Linked DNA regions of Homo sapiens: region 2 is linked to region 1. The links come from fine-mapping of genetic effects on gene expression. Tissue or cell type: whole blood. Region 1 holds a variant in brackets; the other region holds the start of a gene. All regions are shown on one strand. Distances are from middle to middle.

Region 1 (8,000 bases):
ACTGCAGCTGGTAGAAACTTCAGAAGTTGGCCTGAGGCAAACACACGATTTCTTTCCTGAGTGGGAATACTTTTGTTTGTTTGTGAGTAATACCAATCCACGGTGTAACTAGGTTTTCCTTGTCTAGGACATCTTACAATTAAAGCCTCATTTTCCAGGCCCCATGATTGTTTACCTGCAAATAAAAGATATAAAGACAATCCTGAAATGATCAAATGAAAAGATCATAATTCTTATACTCTCAATATTTTCTTCTAGGATTAAATTTAGAAGCCGGTCATATACTGTGATACCTTGGGAAAGAATAAGTAACTGTTAAGATCTCTTATGAAATGTTAATGAATTAATTTGGAGCTAAATCCCCCACAGTTATCCAATGGAAAAGCAGCCTTATCTATCTAAACAAACTGTGTGTCAGTCAATAAACATCCACAACACTTCCCATGTGCAGGCACCACATTAAATTCTGCTGCATTTGAATATGCAAAGCCAAACTGATGATATATTCATTACAAAGAATTTCTTCTGATAGATTTGTAATGAAAAATGATTGTACAAAAGCAATATATTTTTCAGTTTACAATTCAACTGGAACAACTGGAAGCAAACTGCTTAAAACAAGGTAAATGTTCTTGAAATTATTTAATTTATAAAAATTTAAATTATACTTAGAAGGCAATACTTACTAAACTTTGCTGCTGTGGAATACATGAGAATTGTGAGAATTGCTAAGATCCAAAACCCCATTCTGTTTATCAATCAAGAGCAAGTATTGGTAACTCGTTGTTGAGATTACTCCAGATGAGTCACTGGCATACGACAGTGAAGGTCACCACACATGAGGCAGTTGGTGATACTCTTCAAGACTGAGTTGGGAAGAGTAGCCTATATCTCAACTGAAAAATAAGTTAGACAAAACCATAAACAGAATTTTTATCAGCCATGATTTTTACTTTCTCAGCACCACCCAGGAGAATGAATCAGTCAACACATATTTATTAAGTGCAAAGAGATGTAACAGCAGGTTTCAGATATGCAAGCATTGCACTTATTCCTATGGAAGTTTTGGGTCATATAGCTTTCACAATGATCATGCTATTTCACAGTTATCATGCTACTTCGCAGTTATATTTCACCAGTCTCATGAGAATGTCCTGAAAGAAACTAAATTAAGAAGGAAAGAATATGAGTTTCTATTTTTGAAAAAAAAACCATAAAATTCAGTAGACTTTAGAAAATAAAATGTATCATGTGAAACCACAGACATCCACACAGGCTGGTAGCAGCATGCTCACAAAAATAACTCACAAACAGACACATGTGCAAGTAGTCATCACAAAGCAACTAAGGAGTAGCAAAATCAGAACTAGACTAAAGCATTAGCCAAGTAATTGTCCTATTCTCAACCCCAAACCCTCAAACTTTTGTTCCTGACTCAGCTTGTTCCCAGGAGTCACCAAAGGCTTTCTAAGAGTAGTTGAAGGTCTATGAATAATAATAAATACATTAATTTTTTCTTTCAGAAAAATAATCATTTACTTTCTTACTTCTTTTCTTAAAATATAAGGGGAAGAATAGAACCAACATAGAAATTTACTAACATAAAGATAAACACAATCATGAATTATGAAGACTTTTCTTATTACAAATTTTAGATAAGTAATTGATGCTTACCCAAACTGAAAGACAGAGGGGATGAACTTGGAGTCAGTGACGGAGCTAAGAATAGTTTCCAGTCTTTGTAGGTCCCTCCTCATAGACTACTCACTCTCTTCTATTTTAAAGGGGAGACACTCCTCCCATCCTGAAATTTGATTTGTGGCCAAATCTATGACTTGTTCAAAAATGCTGGTGCATCATGTACTAAGAATTCTTGATGTTGACAAATAAATATTTAAACATAAAAACAACATTGAGTAATCCCTTGAGAGGAAATAATTGAATCATTTCCTCCTATTTTAGAATCAACTTCTCAGGCTGATTAATAACTAATGCTTATTGCCTGTACCCCGATATTGGGACACTTTCAGTTCTAAATGGTCTTGACATCGGGGACCTGGAGGCTGCCTTTCCAGATATTCCTTGACTCCTCATTTGGCAGACACCACTCAGGAAAGCTCCGCCAGCCTTGGCAGCATTGGTGCCAGGAGTTTCAAAAGCAAAGGTGGGGGAGAGGAAATGCGAAGTAAGCAGCACTTTCTGGAACTTAGAAATTCTCTGTCTAGGTTCCAGAATGTGACTCCACCCCATCCCAAAACAGATTTCAGCTCCTTGGATTTAAGTCCCAGTAGGCCTCTCTGCCTGGATGAAGAAAAAAAAAAAGGAGCTTTTCTAGAGTGCATAGAGTGCAGAGAAAGAGAAGGAGAGTGTGACTAAGAAGCTTCCCTCAAGGGGAGTGACAAAGAAAACCATAACCCTGAACTCTAGGGCTCCAGGTAAAACAAACTTGAAAAGCAAAATTTGATTTTAGCTATGCATAGTTGCGATGACCCTATCATGAGTAAACTCAACCTACGTTTATAAGTCATCACATCTCAGAAGGATTCAGGAACTAATTCCAGACCCATATAATAATATAATGATAATAGCTAACTTTTCTTTAGAATGTCCTCTATGCCAGACACAGTCTAAGTGATTTACATGTATTAATTCCTTCATTCTCACACTCACCCAATGTGGCAGGCGCTATTATTATGATGCCCATTTTACAGACAAGGACACTGAGGCACAGAGAGATTAAGCAACTTGCCCATGTCACTTCACATTAAGGGGTGAAGTCAGAATTTGAACTCAAGAAGGCTGGCTCTGAAGACTAGACTAATCACAGAATCCAACTGCCACTGCTTGTGGAAGGTTCAGAAAGGAGTAGCTGCAAAAGGGAGAGTTATCAGTACGTTTTTTGAGCCAGCGTCTTTGCTCCCCATGGGGGCTGGGACTACTCTTGAATCTCTTATCTGTCAGGGGTTTAGTCAGCCTTTCAGCCTGTGGAGTGGCTCTGAGAGGAAGAGATACACAGTCCTTTGACCGCGGGGAGATTGACCATGAGATGTTCGCCGTAAATTAGAGGAATTAGGTCTGCACATTATTATTCTTGACCTACTTGTGGAAGTCCGTTTTATCAGGATATTATTGCAGTTTGGGTGTGAGATCACAGCCAGGAGCCAGCGAGTCTGCAATGCTGCCTGCGATTCCCCAAGTGCTGAATAGGTTTGTTCAATAAAATAACACAAACTCGGAATTCTTTTACATTTGGTATCCCAAAACATCTTTTTAAAACATGTATTAAGTTGGAGCATTCATTCTTAAACTAGGCCACGTAAGCATTAGTTTCTCAGTTTAAAAAATAAAGCTTCCATCAATTTTAACATCATAATGATGAAATTCTGCAGGAGTATTTATTAAAGTTGAACTCTTCCTATAAAATAATTCAGTTGTTCATTTGACAATTAAGACCTTTCATTCAAAGTACAATACTCTGTGGTACTTATCATTAACATCACTCAAATTTTATAGTTACAAATAAAAACCCAAGGATAAGACTGTTTAAGTAATTTGACAAAGTTCACCCAGTTGTGGCTGGGGTTGAAACCAGACTTGCTGAACTTCAAAGTCAAGCTTTTCTCCCCCCAATGTCAACTAAAAAAAGAGAACATTCTCTATACCAGAGATTAGGCTGGTAAAGCTTTTCTTTTTATAATTTGGACTGGGTTATTAAAATAAGCTAGTCTATAATTTCTTCTTTGAAAAGAACTAAATTATTTTGGCTTCTCACTATTCAGGCACCATTCAACATAACAGAGAGTAGTTTATAGCAACTTAAGACAAACTGCAAAAAGGCAAGGGCTTCTAATACATGAATAAAGCAAGGCATTTTAAGCACCCATAAATTTCTGCCAACTTAATCAGAAATCTTCCAGTGTCCGCTTGTTTCTCTGGCAAACACCCACTTTTTTAAGACTTCTCATAACTACTCTCCCTTTTCAGATTAATCTCATAGAATCTAAGCTCATTGAACCAGCTTTTTCTTAATTTTGTTACAGTTTTGAAATCCTGTATGTGCCTATTTATAATCTACTTCACTTACATAACCATTAAAAAAACAAAAAACAAAAGAACAAACAAAACCTTATGTTTTGAGGGCAACAACTAACTGCTGGCATATGGAATGTGACACTCAAATACTTCCGAACTTAGAAGGTATCTTTCAAGACTTCTTCATTTGACTTAGCAGATATCACACTGAAATGTAAAATGTAAATGTCCTAACACACTCCAGAGCTGGCCATGTGTGGCCTGCTCTTACTGTAAACCAGTGTCAAAAGACAGGGAACTTGGTTACATTAATCTTATATGAATTTCAGTGAGTCAGGCTCTCATTCAGTGACTCTCACAATAAGCTGGGGATGGATGTTTTTTTTCCCCTCATTTCACTAGAGGACATCTGGGTATCATTTTTATTCTGTTTTTTTATTTTTTTTTATTGATGAAAATGTTTTCAGGACCTGCAGTGGATGGGGCAGAA[C/A]AAGCATGCCCCTAGACGGCCTAGCCTGGGCCTCTGGAGAATATGCTGGGCCCCCCAGCTCCATTAGCTGTGTAGCTGTGGGCAAAGTGCTTGTCTCTGGGATCCTTCTTGCCCATACTCCAAACTCTAGGCCCACTCAAGCCTCCACTCCTTCCCTCCAAACTCCTTCTTGCTTCACCCAATCCTCCCCTCCAAAAACCAGAAGACCCGTCTGAATGGCTATTATCAAAAACTCAAAAAACAGCAGATGTTGGCATGGATATGGAGAAAAGGGAATGCTTATACATTGTTGCTGGGAATGTCAATTAGTTCAATCTCTAAGGAAAACAGTATGAAGATTTCTCAATGAACCAAAAGTAAAACTACCATTCAACCCAGAAATCTCACTACTTTTCTAAGGAAAAGAAATTAGTGTATAAAAAAGACACCTCTCCACCTCTACTAGTATGTTCACTGCAGCACGGTTCACAATAGGAAAGTCATGGAACCAACTCAAGTGTCCATCAACGGTTGACTAGATAAAGAAAATGTTGTACCTATGCACCACGGATTACTATTCAGCCATAAAAAGAATGAGATTATGTCCTTTGCTACATGGATGGAGCTGGAGACCATTATCTTAAGTGAACCAGTTAAGAAACAGAAAACCAAATACCACATGTTCTTACTCATATGTGGGAGCTAAACCATGGGTACTCATGGACATAAAGATGGAAATAATAGACACTGGGGACTCCAAAAGTAGGGAGGGTAGGGGGTGATGAATGAAAAATTACCTACTGGGTACAATATTCACAATTTGGGTAAGACCAGTCCCCACCAGTAATGCAATATACCTTTGTAACAAACAAGTACATGTACCTTAGAATCTAAAATTTAAAAAAACAAACAAACAAAAACAGAAGAAACCATCATATATTCAAGGAACAAGTGGAATTCACAAAAGCTTCATGTCTCCAGAACAGAACTTCTGATCTCCTCCAGCCTCCTTGCCTCCCTTGCCCCAAAGAAAATTCAGCATCTCCCATTGTCTTCTAATTGTAATGATGACAACTCCATGCTGAATGTTGGCTCAGACCAAGACTCCATTTATTATTGACTCTTCTCTTCCTCACATATTGAACATGCAATCCATCAGGACAACTTATGGTTTCATCTTCAAAGGACATCCTACCTGCAATTGCATCTCTCCATTCTCAATGCCACCATCCTTGTCCAAGCCACCATGGTCTCTCACTTGGATTTTAATAACTGCTTCTAAATTGCTATCCCTGCTTCCACTTGTACCCTCTTAAGTATATTCCTAAAACAGACACTCTGGAGATTCTGTTAGAACCTAGGTCAAATCAAGGGGGCCTCCAAAGTCTTCCACCTCACCCAGAGGAAAAGCCAACGTCTTTACAGAAGCTGGGAGGTACCACACGATGGAACACCACCAATCACCTCTCTGACCCCTCCCCTCCAACCCCGTATCCTCATTGCTGTTCCTTGAAGGCACTAGGCAGACATTGTTCCTTCTGCCTGGACAGCTTCTTCCTGTTACCCACCTCCTCCAAGAGCTAACTTACCTCCTCCAAGTGAGCACTCAAACTGTACATTCTCTGTGAGACTTAGCCTAACTACTCAATTTTCTGTTCTTTTTTTGCTTCTGATTTTTAAAAATTGCGCTGAAATTTACATAACATAAAATTAACTATTTCGAAGTGCACAATTTAGTGACATTTGGTACATTCACAATGTGGTACAACCACTAACTCTATCTAGTTTCAAAACATTTTCACCATCCCCGAGTATAACCCCATACCCATTAACATGAAGTCCCCATTCTTCCTCTTCCACCACAAACCCATAGCCACCACCAATCTGCTTTCTGATTCTATGGGTTTATCTATTCTGAATATTTCCTATAAATGGAGTCACACAATAAGTGCCCTTTGTGACTGCCTTATTTCACTTAGCATAATCTTTCCAAGTTTTGTTCATATTGTAGCATGGGTCTGTACTTTATTGTTTCTAATGACTGAATAATATTCCACTGTGTGTGCCTACCACACTTTGTTTATCCATTCATCCCTTAATGGGCATCTGGGTTGCTTCTAGCTATTGACTATTTTGAATAATGCTGCTATCGGTGTCCAAGTATTTGTTTGAGTTCCTGACCAATCAATTTTGAATTGCAATGTCTCCTCTCCCAATCCCCATCTCCTTAACCTGCTCCAATCTTTTTCTAAGGCATTCATCACTTCTAACATTCTACTTATGCATCATGTTTATTATTTTCTGTTTTATCCATTGGAATATGACCTCCAGAAGGCAATATTATTTTTGTGAGTTTTGTCTATTGATATAGCTCATGTGCCTGGAAGAGCACCAAGTAGGTGCTCAGAAATGTTTACTTATTATCATTATTATTATTATTTCTGAGGCAAGGTCTCACTCTTTCACCCAGGATGGAGTGCAGTGGTGTGATCATGGCTCACTGCAGTCTCCACCTCCCAGGCTCAGGTGATCCTCCCACCTCAGCCTCCAGAATAGCTGGGACTACATGCACACATCACCATGCCCAGCTAATTTTTGTATTTTTCGTAGAGATGGGGTTTCACCATATTGCCAAAGCTGGTCTCAAACATCTGGGCTCAAGAGATCCACCAACCTTGACCTCCCAAAGTGCTGGGATTACAGGCTTGAGTCACCATGCCCAGCCTCAGAAATATTTATTGAATGAACCAGTACAGATGACCAAGGGATGGAATTTGGGATTCAAAAAATAAAGCTTTTATATATGGATCTAAACAGGAGCAGTCTGTCTTTCACCATGCTCTTACATCTCTACCCCGAATATCTGTCTTATTTCTTTTATCTTATCGGAAGATGAGACCTGAGTCACCCTTGGGAGGTCCCATGGGAACTCCTGGGCCGAGAACAGATGGAGCATAGAGAGCCAGAAGAAGCTCTGTGGACTGCAGACACTCAGGAAAAAGAAATGGGCTGGTGGCCATGTGAAAAACAGCCAGCAGTCTTAACAGTTTGCACATGTGAAATGACTAAATCATCATTAAGATCCCTTCAAGACTAATATTTTAGACCATTGTGTAATTTCTCACATACTAATTCCACAGACTTTATTGCTGTGGTCTGCATTTGTCGTCCTTTATTTAGTTCATGTACATCTTTTGTCCTGAGGTCAGTGTAACTTATTCTCCCAGCAGCAGAATCTGCTTCTAAAGCTTCTATGGAAATCTAAAGTCTGCATGGCAAATTAAAGTCCTGGGAATACCCAAGACATGGTTAAAGAAAAAGAACAAAGTCAGAGAACTTACACAACCTGACCTTAAGACTTAATATAAAAGCTACCATAGTGAAAACAGTGTGGTATGGGCATAAAGACAGACATGTTGATCAAAGAAGAGAGAGTCCAGAAGTAGACTCAAAAATATATAGTAAATTGATGTTTGATTAAAGTGCCAACATAAGTTTA
Region 2 (8,000 bases), 20 kb before region 1:
TGTTGGTGGTCAAATAGATGCTTACATAGTTTCTTCATTTTTATGGCTCAGTATTGTTTTGTTTTGTTTTTATATTTAACTTTTTTCATCCACCAACAATTAATTTTCTTGATTGACATGAAGATAGGGAGTAACTAAACTTACTTTCCTCAAATACCTACTAATTACTTCTCTATTGTTAATTAAATAATCCTGTATTTCCCCTACGGTTTGCTGACACTAGCTTATAATGTACAGGTCCTCCCTGAGCACTCTACTGCAAGTCTAGCACAGCATGCTTTTCCAAATGCAAACATGCACATGCACACACACGCACACACACACACATGCTCACACACACCAATGTTCCTCTACCCTCCCATGTTTAGTTTTTCTATTCATAGCACTTATCACTAACTGTCATATTTTCACTTTATGTCTGCTTGTTTCTTTGTTATTTGCTGAATTATTGAATGAATTACATCCATAAAATATACATAATTTTGAATCTAGGTGATCATCTGATCCATTGGCACATCTGCACAATCTACTTTTGAAATGCTTTTTAACGCATGATATCTTGGAAAGTATGTTTTAGCAACTAATGTGAAGTCTAGGCCACCAGCTCTCACCCAAGTTTGGAAAAAAATAATGATGCCCGGGCTCCACCCAGTGGTCTGGAGGACAGACTGGGCATCTTGAGTCCTCAGAACTCCGCAGGTGACTCTAACATACAGTCAGGAAGAGAGCCGCCGACGTAGGGCACTTATTTGTATTCTCAGGAAAGTACATTTAATACATCTTAAATGCATATATTTGGTGTGTCTAAGACATATTAAATATTTGTGCATGTACATATGTACGTACGTGTGTGTACACACACATAACGAATAGTCACAAACTTACCTAATCACCCAAAGGCATGAAGTTTTCTCTAAATGAAAAAAAAAAGTTTCCTTCAAAAATTGGGTGACCTAGGCTTAAGGTCAGTTCCAAGCTGACCACTCTGTCTCCCAAGGCAGCACAGTAAAAAGCCCTTCCAGAGGGTCCAAACAGTCACCTGAACCCCTGGCTCTGCCCAGTTGCCCTTGTTTATGGGTCCCACCCTGAGAAACTGACCTTTCTCTAAAAGTAATTCACAGAAACACATAATGTACAGGGAAAGAGCCATTTCAAAGCTCTTTCTAATGAGGAACCTGAGATTTGAGGAAGTGAAATGGCCAGCCTCAGATTACAGCTATTCACAAGGACACACATGAATCAATGTAGATGCCTCAATATAAATCACTCATTAGCAACACATACAATCGAGCAACTCCTGAGACAAAATGCCTGGATGAAAATCATAACACCAGTTTTTTTTTAATATAATTTTTCTTCTACAGTGTTCCATGCATAGTCGTTTTACTCAGCCTGTGAGATGATAAAACAACCAAATGCAAAGAGGAGAAAATGATCTTGGGGCATAACATACACACACACACACACGCTTAAACTCTAACAAACAAAATAATTTGTGTGGAATCTGGCTTCTCATCTGTAAGGCCAAGAAAATCAATGCCACCTCATAGTCCTTGTCACACAAGTGTCTGTTGTTAGCCTTATGCTTCCCCCCAAATCTGCCTATGCCTGTGCTACCTGGGCCACCCTCCCCACTTATCCCAGATGCCAGGTCCCTAGAGTCCTTTCAACTTGGCTCAGTATTTGCCTTCTCAAGGAAGCTCTCCAACTGCAACAGCCCCAAATGGCACATGCCTATGTCCAAGCCCGTCTCCATCACTCTGCAGGTGTTTCCATCACTCCTGGACTAGCTCCCACTCTCTGGTGAGGTCCCTGAAGGCAGGGACCCTGCCTTTTCTTTTTTTTCTTTTTTTTTTTTGAGATAGAGTCTCACTCTGTCGCCCAGGCTGGAGTGCAGTGGCACAATCTCTGCTCACTGCAACCTCTGCCTCCCAGGTTCAAGGGATTCTCCTGCCTCAGCCTCCCGAGTAGCTGGGATTACAGATGCATGCCACCATGCCTGGCTAATTTTCTGTATTTTTAGTAGAGACGGGGTTTCACCATGTTAGCCAGGATGGTCTCGATCTCCTGACCTCATGATCCGCCCACCTCAGCCTCCCAAGTGCTGGGATTTAGACCCTGCCTTTTCAATCCACATTCCTAGGCCTTAGCCTTAGTTCTCAGCCTTTGGATGTATATTTGTGCAGGGAGAGGGAAAACACTGTCCCCAGAACCTGCACAAACCCAATTCCCCAAATTTACCCCTCCTAGCCCATCCAAGGCCCTGAGGTTGAGAGGTGTGCTCCCAATAGCAGCACTGTGTATGACACAAAATCAGTATTTGCAAAGGGTCTTGAGAATGAAGCAAGGGAAGTCAGTGAAATGAATACAATAATCTTGGATCTCTGTATCTGGCTGCAATTGACACCTCATTAATTTGTCTGATAACTGCGATGCAAGGTGCTGGGCATTTTAACTTCCCAAGGCTGGGCAGAAAAAAGACAAAGGCTCTGGAATCAGAAAAACTGTAGGTGTGGATCTGGGATCTACTACTTAGTAGCTGGATACTCTTGGGTAAATGACGGAATTCCTCCTCCCTTTTATTAAAGCATAATAATAGTTCCTATTTCATGTGGCCCTTAGGAGGATTAAGTGAAAATAAGATATCTAAAAATTTTCTACAGTGTCAGGCACACAGTAAGCACTTAAAAAATGACAACTATTGTTATCATTTATTTCAGTCGTTCTCACCTCTCCAGAAAATAATTGGGGATGTCTTAATTTCTAAAACTATACTTTCAGAGAAAGACAGGATGCTGTCTCATCAATTATTCACACGTATTCACACACACACTATCTCTCTCTCTCTCTTAATTGATCTTGTTTTGAGAATCCCTCCCCGGATGGTGGTCTTCCCTTCCTCTGGGGGGTGGGGAGGGGATGCGGGTGGCAGCGGAGCCCACCCTTACCTTCAGAGAGGCGTCCCCGAGGCTGGGGCGGGGGCGGCAGCTCCTCCTTCACGCCAGGTCGCGACTGCGGAGGCCAAGTTCAGAAAGTAGGTGAGAAGCAGCGATCTCCGCCTCCTGACTACCGTGGAAAGTGAAAGAGAGGTGTGATTAAAGAGATAAGGCACCCAGAGAGGGCTACAAAAAAAAAAAAAAAGAAGAAGAAGGAAAAAAAGTAGGAACAGAAAGAAGAATGTCAGGCGTCTGGCAGCTCCTGGCTGCTAACCCCGGCCGGTGGAGGCTGCAGGTGGGCACTGCCCGCGGTCGGGCGAAGCTCCGGGTCCGGGAGTGTAGCGGTCTGGGGCGCTCTCAGTCTGGGGCGCTCCCTGGCGTAGAATCCTCCCTGACTCGGAGGTCCCGGTCTGGGGACCCTCCGGTCCGGGTGCTCCTCGCAGCCGTGCTCCAGGACCGGCTCCTCCACCCAGACGCCCCGCGTGGAGTTACCGGAGCTACTGGATCGCGGGGTCCAAAGGTTGCTGCTGGAAAACCCAGCGCCTTGCCCTTTTCCCGCGGACGGCGTGGGCCCCAGGCGTCTGGCGCTTCCTGCCCAGCCGCGCGGCGCGGGTCCCGGGAAAACCCGGGCTGTAGCCGGGTGACCTGCGGGGCCGGAAGGGGGCGCGCCCGGGCCGCTCGCAAGCACCCTGCAGGCCGCGGTTCACAGCAGAGGATGCCAGGAGGGAGGACCGCTGGCCGCAGCGGCCGCCCGGCTCTTCAGAGGAAGAGGAGGGGAGGGCTGAGGGTGGAAGAGGGGTCCCCGGGGGATGCCGAAGGTGAGAGGGGCTCCGCGTCTCAAGTACACAAATGCGCCCCAGGCTTTTTGCTTTCCCAGAAGGATGGGAGTTCACTATAGGGAAGTAATAGAGAGGGGTGCAATTGTTGAAGTTTTAATTTTTTTTAAGGAGGCCAAAGGGGAATGTGTGTTTCTAGATTTTTATTTTGTGGCAGAACTGTTATTTAACCAAAGGAAAAGGGAAACCCATAGCCGACAGGCAAAATGTTCAATTGGACAATGATTTTAATTCTTTTTACCCAATTTAGATAATTCACCACATAATAAATAAAAATATGTAATTATCTCAATAAATGCAAATAAAAGCATCTGGCAAAATTCAACACCCTTTCTGAATTAATAACGATCAGAAAACCGAGAGTAGAAATGATCTTTCTTAATCTGATAAAGAACATCTATAAGAAACCTACAGGTGACCTCATAATAGTGAAACATTTTACTTTTTCCTAAGATTAGTAATGAGATAAGGATTTTGGCTCCCACCTGGGACAACTGCTTTGCAACAAGTGAAGAAATAAAAATAAAATTAGAAAGCATAAAGATTGAGAAGAAAGAATTAAAACTACTGGTTTTAACAGAGAGCATAATTATATGTAGACCAACTTTTGAAATCTACAAAAAAAAAAACTACTGGAAATATTAAGTTTATCAAGATCATGGAATATAAAAATCAATAGCAATTCTATATATTAGAGATGGAAACTTGAAAAGTGAAGTTTGTTAAAAATGCCATTTACCATAGCATTTAAAAATCAAAATACCAAAGTATAAATTCATTGGATAATATATGAGATATCTCCTGTGAAAACTACAAAATATTGCTAACAGAGATGAAACATCTAAGTAATAAAGGGATATACCACGTTTACGGATTGGAAGACTTAAGACATCTATTCTCCACACTGTATATTTTTAGACTCTATATATTACAGAATCTATATATTTAATACAATTCAATCCAAATCCCAGGAAAATTTTTCAAAGAAATTAAGAAGCTGTTTCTAAAATTCATATGAAAATGCAAATAATCTAGGATTGTCCGGACAGAGACGGAGTTTTGCTCTTCTTGCCCAGGCTGGAGTGAGTGCAATGACGCGATCTCGGCTCACTGCAACCTCCGCCTCCCGGGTTCAAGCGATTCTCCTGCCTCAGCCGCCCGAGTAGCTGGGATTACAGGCATGCACTATCACGCCTGGCTACTTTTGTATTTTTAGTAGAGACAGGGTTTCTCCGTGTTGGTCAGGCTGGTTTTGAACTCTCGACCTCAGGTGATCCACCCATTTCAGCCTCCCAAAGTGTTGAAATTACAGGGGTGAGCCACCTGCCCGGCCTGTCTGGGCAATCTTGACAAAGATGAACAAAGTTGAGAGACTTATACTGACTTGAGGATTTATAATAAGGCAATAGTAATTATGGCAATGTGATATTCACAGAAACATACAAACATACAAAATAGAAAGTAGACTAATAGATCCACACATATCTAGTCAATTGATTTTTTTAACAAAGCACCATGTCAATTCAGTGGGGAAAAAACAGTCTTTCACAAACATTGCTGGAACAGCTGGGTACCTCTACAGAAGAAGCAGCAGCAGAAAAAAGAACTTTGTCCTTGCCTTGTTCTATATACAAGTATCAATTCACAATAGACCATGGACCTAAACATAAAAGCTAGAACCGTAAATATTTCATAAAAATACAGAGAAGACCCTTGAACAGGCAAAAAATAAATAAATAAATCATGCTCTTGGACAGGCAAAAAAAAAAAATTCTTAGCTAGGACACAAAAAAAAATAGCCATTTGGGACACATTGATTAATTGGACATCACCAAAATTAAAAATGTCTACTAAACAAAGACATCACTTAAAAATGAATAGATAACCCTGGAAATATTCTCACTTTACATCTATCTGGCAAAGAACTTGCATCCACAATACATAAATAATTCCTACACATCAACAATATAAAAAGAAATACAATTTAAATAAGGCAAAATATTTTGCCTTCACTAAAAAATATATACGAATGGCCAATGAAAACATGAAAAGGGCTCATCATCATGAGTCGGGGAACTTCAAGTTAAGACCATGGTGATCTTCATCTAACACCTGTGAAAATTGTTAAAATATAAAGAAACTTGACAACACCAATTATTGGTGAGGCAATGAAGCAGCAGAGCTCTCATACACAACTGGTGGGAATGTAAAGTAGTACAATTAGTTTGCGAAACAATGTATAAGTTTCTCTGAAAGTTAAATATGCACCTACCCTATGACCACTCTTAAGTGTCAAAATAAAATCATAAGTCCACAAGTATGTTCATAGGAGACTCTGTCTCAAATACATATATATAATATTATATATATAAAATATTCTATATAAAATATATATTATATTATATATAATATTCTATATAAAATATATATTATATTATATATAATATTCTATATAAAATATATGTTATATTATTTATATAGAATACTATATATTATATATAATATTATATTATATTATATATTATAATTATAATAATTATATAATGATTTATATAATAATTATATATAAATATATAATTTATATTTATATAATTTATATAATAATTATATATAAATATATATAATATATAAATTATATTATATATCATATTGTATATAAAATATATAATATTATATATAATATTATATATAAATTTTATATATATAATATATATTATATATAATATTATATATAATATATATTATATATAATATATTTATATATATTATGTATAAGATATATTATATATTAATTATATATAATTAATAATTATGTATAAAATATATATTATATATTAATTATATATAATTGATAATTATGTATAAGATATATTATATATTAATTATATATAATTAATAATTATGTATAAAATATATATTATATATTAATTATATAATTAATAATTATATATAAAATATATATTATATTATATATAAAAATATTATATATAAAATATTATATATTAAATAATATTATTTTTATATGTTATATATTATACATTATTAGATATTCTATATTATATTTTATATAATTATATATAATTATATACACATTTTATATAGAAAATATTATATATAATATTATATATAATATTTTATATATAAAATTATATATAAAATATTATATATAATATTATATATAAAATATTATATATATATATAGAAAATAAAGAAAATCTGGCATGTTGGGAACAAGATTTACAACTGACATTCTGCCTGAGGGAATCAGAATGTTCTTCAAGTGACGTGAAAATCTACTCTCGAATGATTAGTTTGCTATTCAGATTATTGACAAGAATGAGGAGAAACAAAGCAAGACAGAGAGAGAGGAAAAAAGAGTAGTGAAAACATCCCACACCACAGTGAAGACAGGCAAGCAAAAGGGAAAAGGGAAGAAAATGGTGGCTGGAGGATGGTGGAGGATTGAGGAGAAAAATTTCTGGCCATTTTGCATCCACCCAGAAGCAGGGAAATGGAAGGAAAGTTACCAGATGAAACCTGAGGCCTGAATCCCTTTAATATTCCTGCTCCTCACACTTCAGTGCAGGGGCATAAGCCAGCTAGGAGAAGTCAGGAAAGCTTCAAACTCAGATGCCTTTGCACATCACAGCAGGCACTATTGCTTCTGGGCAGCCAAGGGAGTCAAACTAGAGGCCTTTCTGGGAATTTTGCTTGGCACAGGCATTTGGTACCTCACGTGCTTCCAGAATTTAGAATTCAGGGACCTTTTATTGGCAATGTGGTCCTCCCTCCACTTGATGGTCCCCTGTACTTTCATAAGATGCTGGAGGGAGTCCTGAAGCGCCTCAGCCTGCAGCATGTCCAGCTCGCTCAGAGCCTCCATCTCAATAAGTATCACCTTGGCGTCGTTCTGGATGAGGGCACAGTGCAGGGCAACCTCCTGCTCGTAGGCAAACTCCTTATTGTGAGTGATCTGAGGGGTCAGGATGAAAATGTGCCGCCTGCTCTTTCGTATGTTGGTTTCCACTGCAGTGACTACATCTAGTCATACAAGAAATAGATCAGATTTCTTATCAGTCTAATGCTTTAAACATAAACATCCTGAACATTTAAAAGTCTTATTGTTATAATCTGGTGTGAGATTCTCTGACATCAAGTCACTTACTCAGAGAAGTGGAAGTATGTGTGGATAGAGAACCCGTTTTGTTCTTTGTGTTCCTTTCATTTG

The links. PIP is the estimated chance that this variant, and not a neighbour inherited with it, causes the effect.
Region 2: it holds the start of IL18R1, and the variant in region 1 is fine-mapped to the expression of IL18R1 in whole blood (INTERVAL, PIP 0.97).

The regions. Positions count from the first base shown.
Region 1 is chr2:102,331,012-102,339,011 of GRCh38, reverse strand. IL1RL1 (interleukin 1 receptor like 1) reads right to left here. Exons shown (of 11, transcript NM_016232.5): 2 at 687-896; 3 at 1-175. The coding sequence starts at 747. Among named protein-coding and RNA genes, the nearest start is that of IL18R1, 21 kb to the left of the region's middle. The variant C/A (reference allele first, on the strand shown) is at 4,523.
Region 2 is chr2:102,351,349-102,359,348 of GRCh38, reverse strand. IL18R1 (interleukin 18 receptor 1) reads right to left here and starts at 3,553. Exons shown (of 11, transcript NM_003855.5): 1 at 2,949-3,553. IL1RL1 (interleukin 1 receptor like 1) reads right to left here. Exons shown (of 11, transcript NM_016232.5): 11 at 7,312-7,813. The coding sequence ends at 7,428. RefSeq lists silencers at 3,499-3,558, 3,579-3,688 and an enhancer at 3,283-3,784.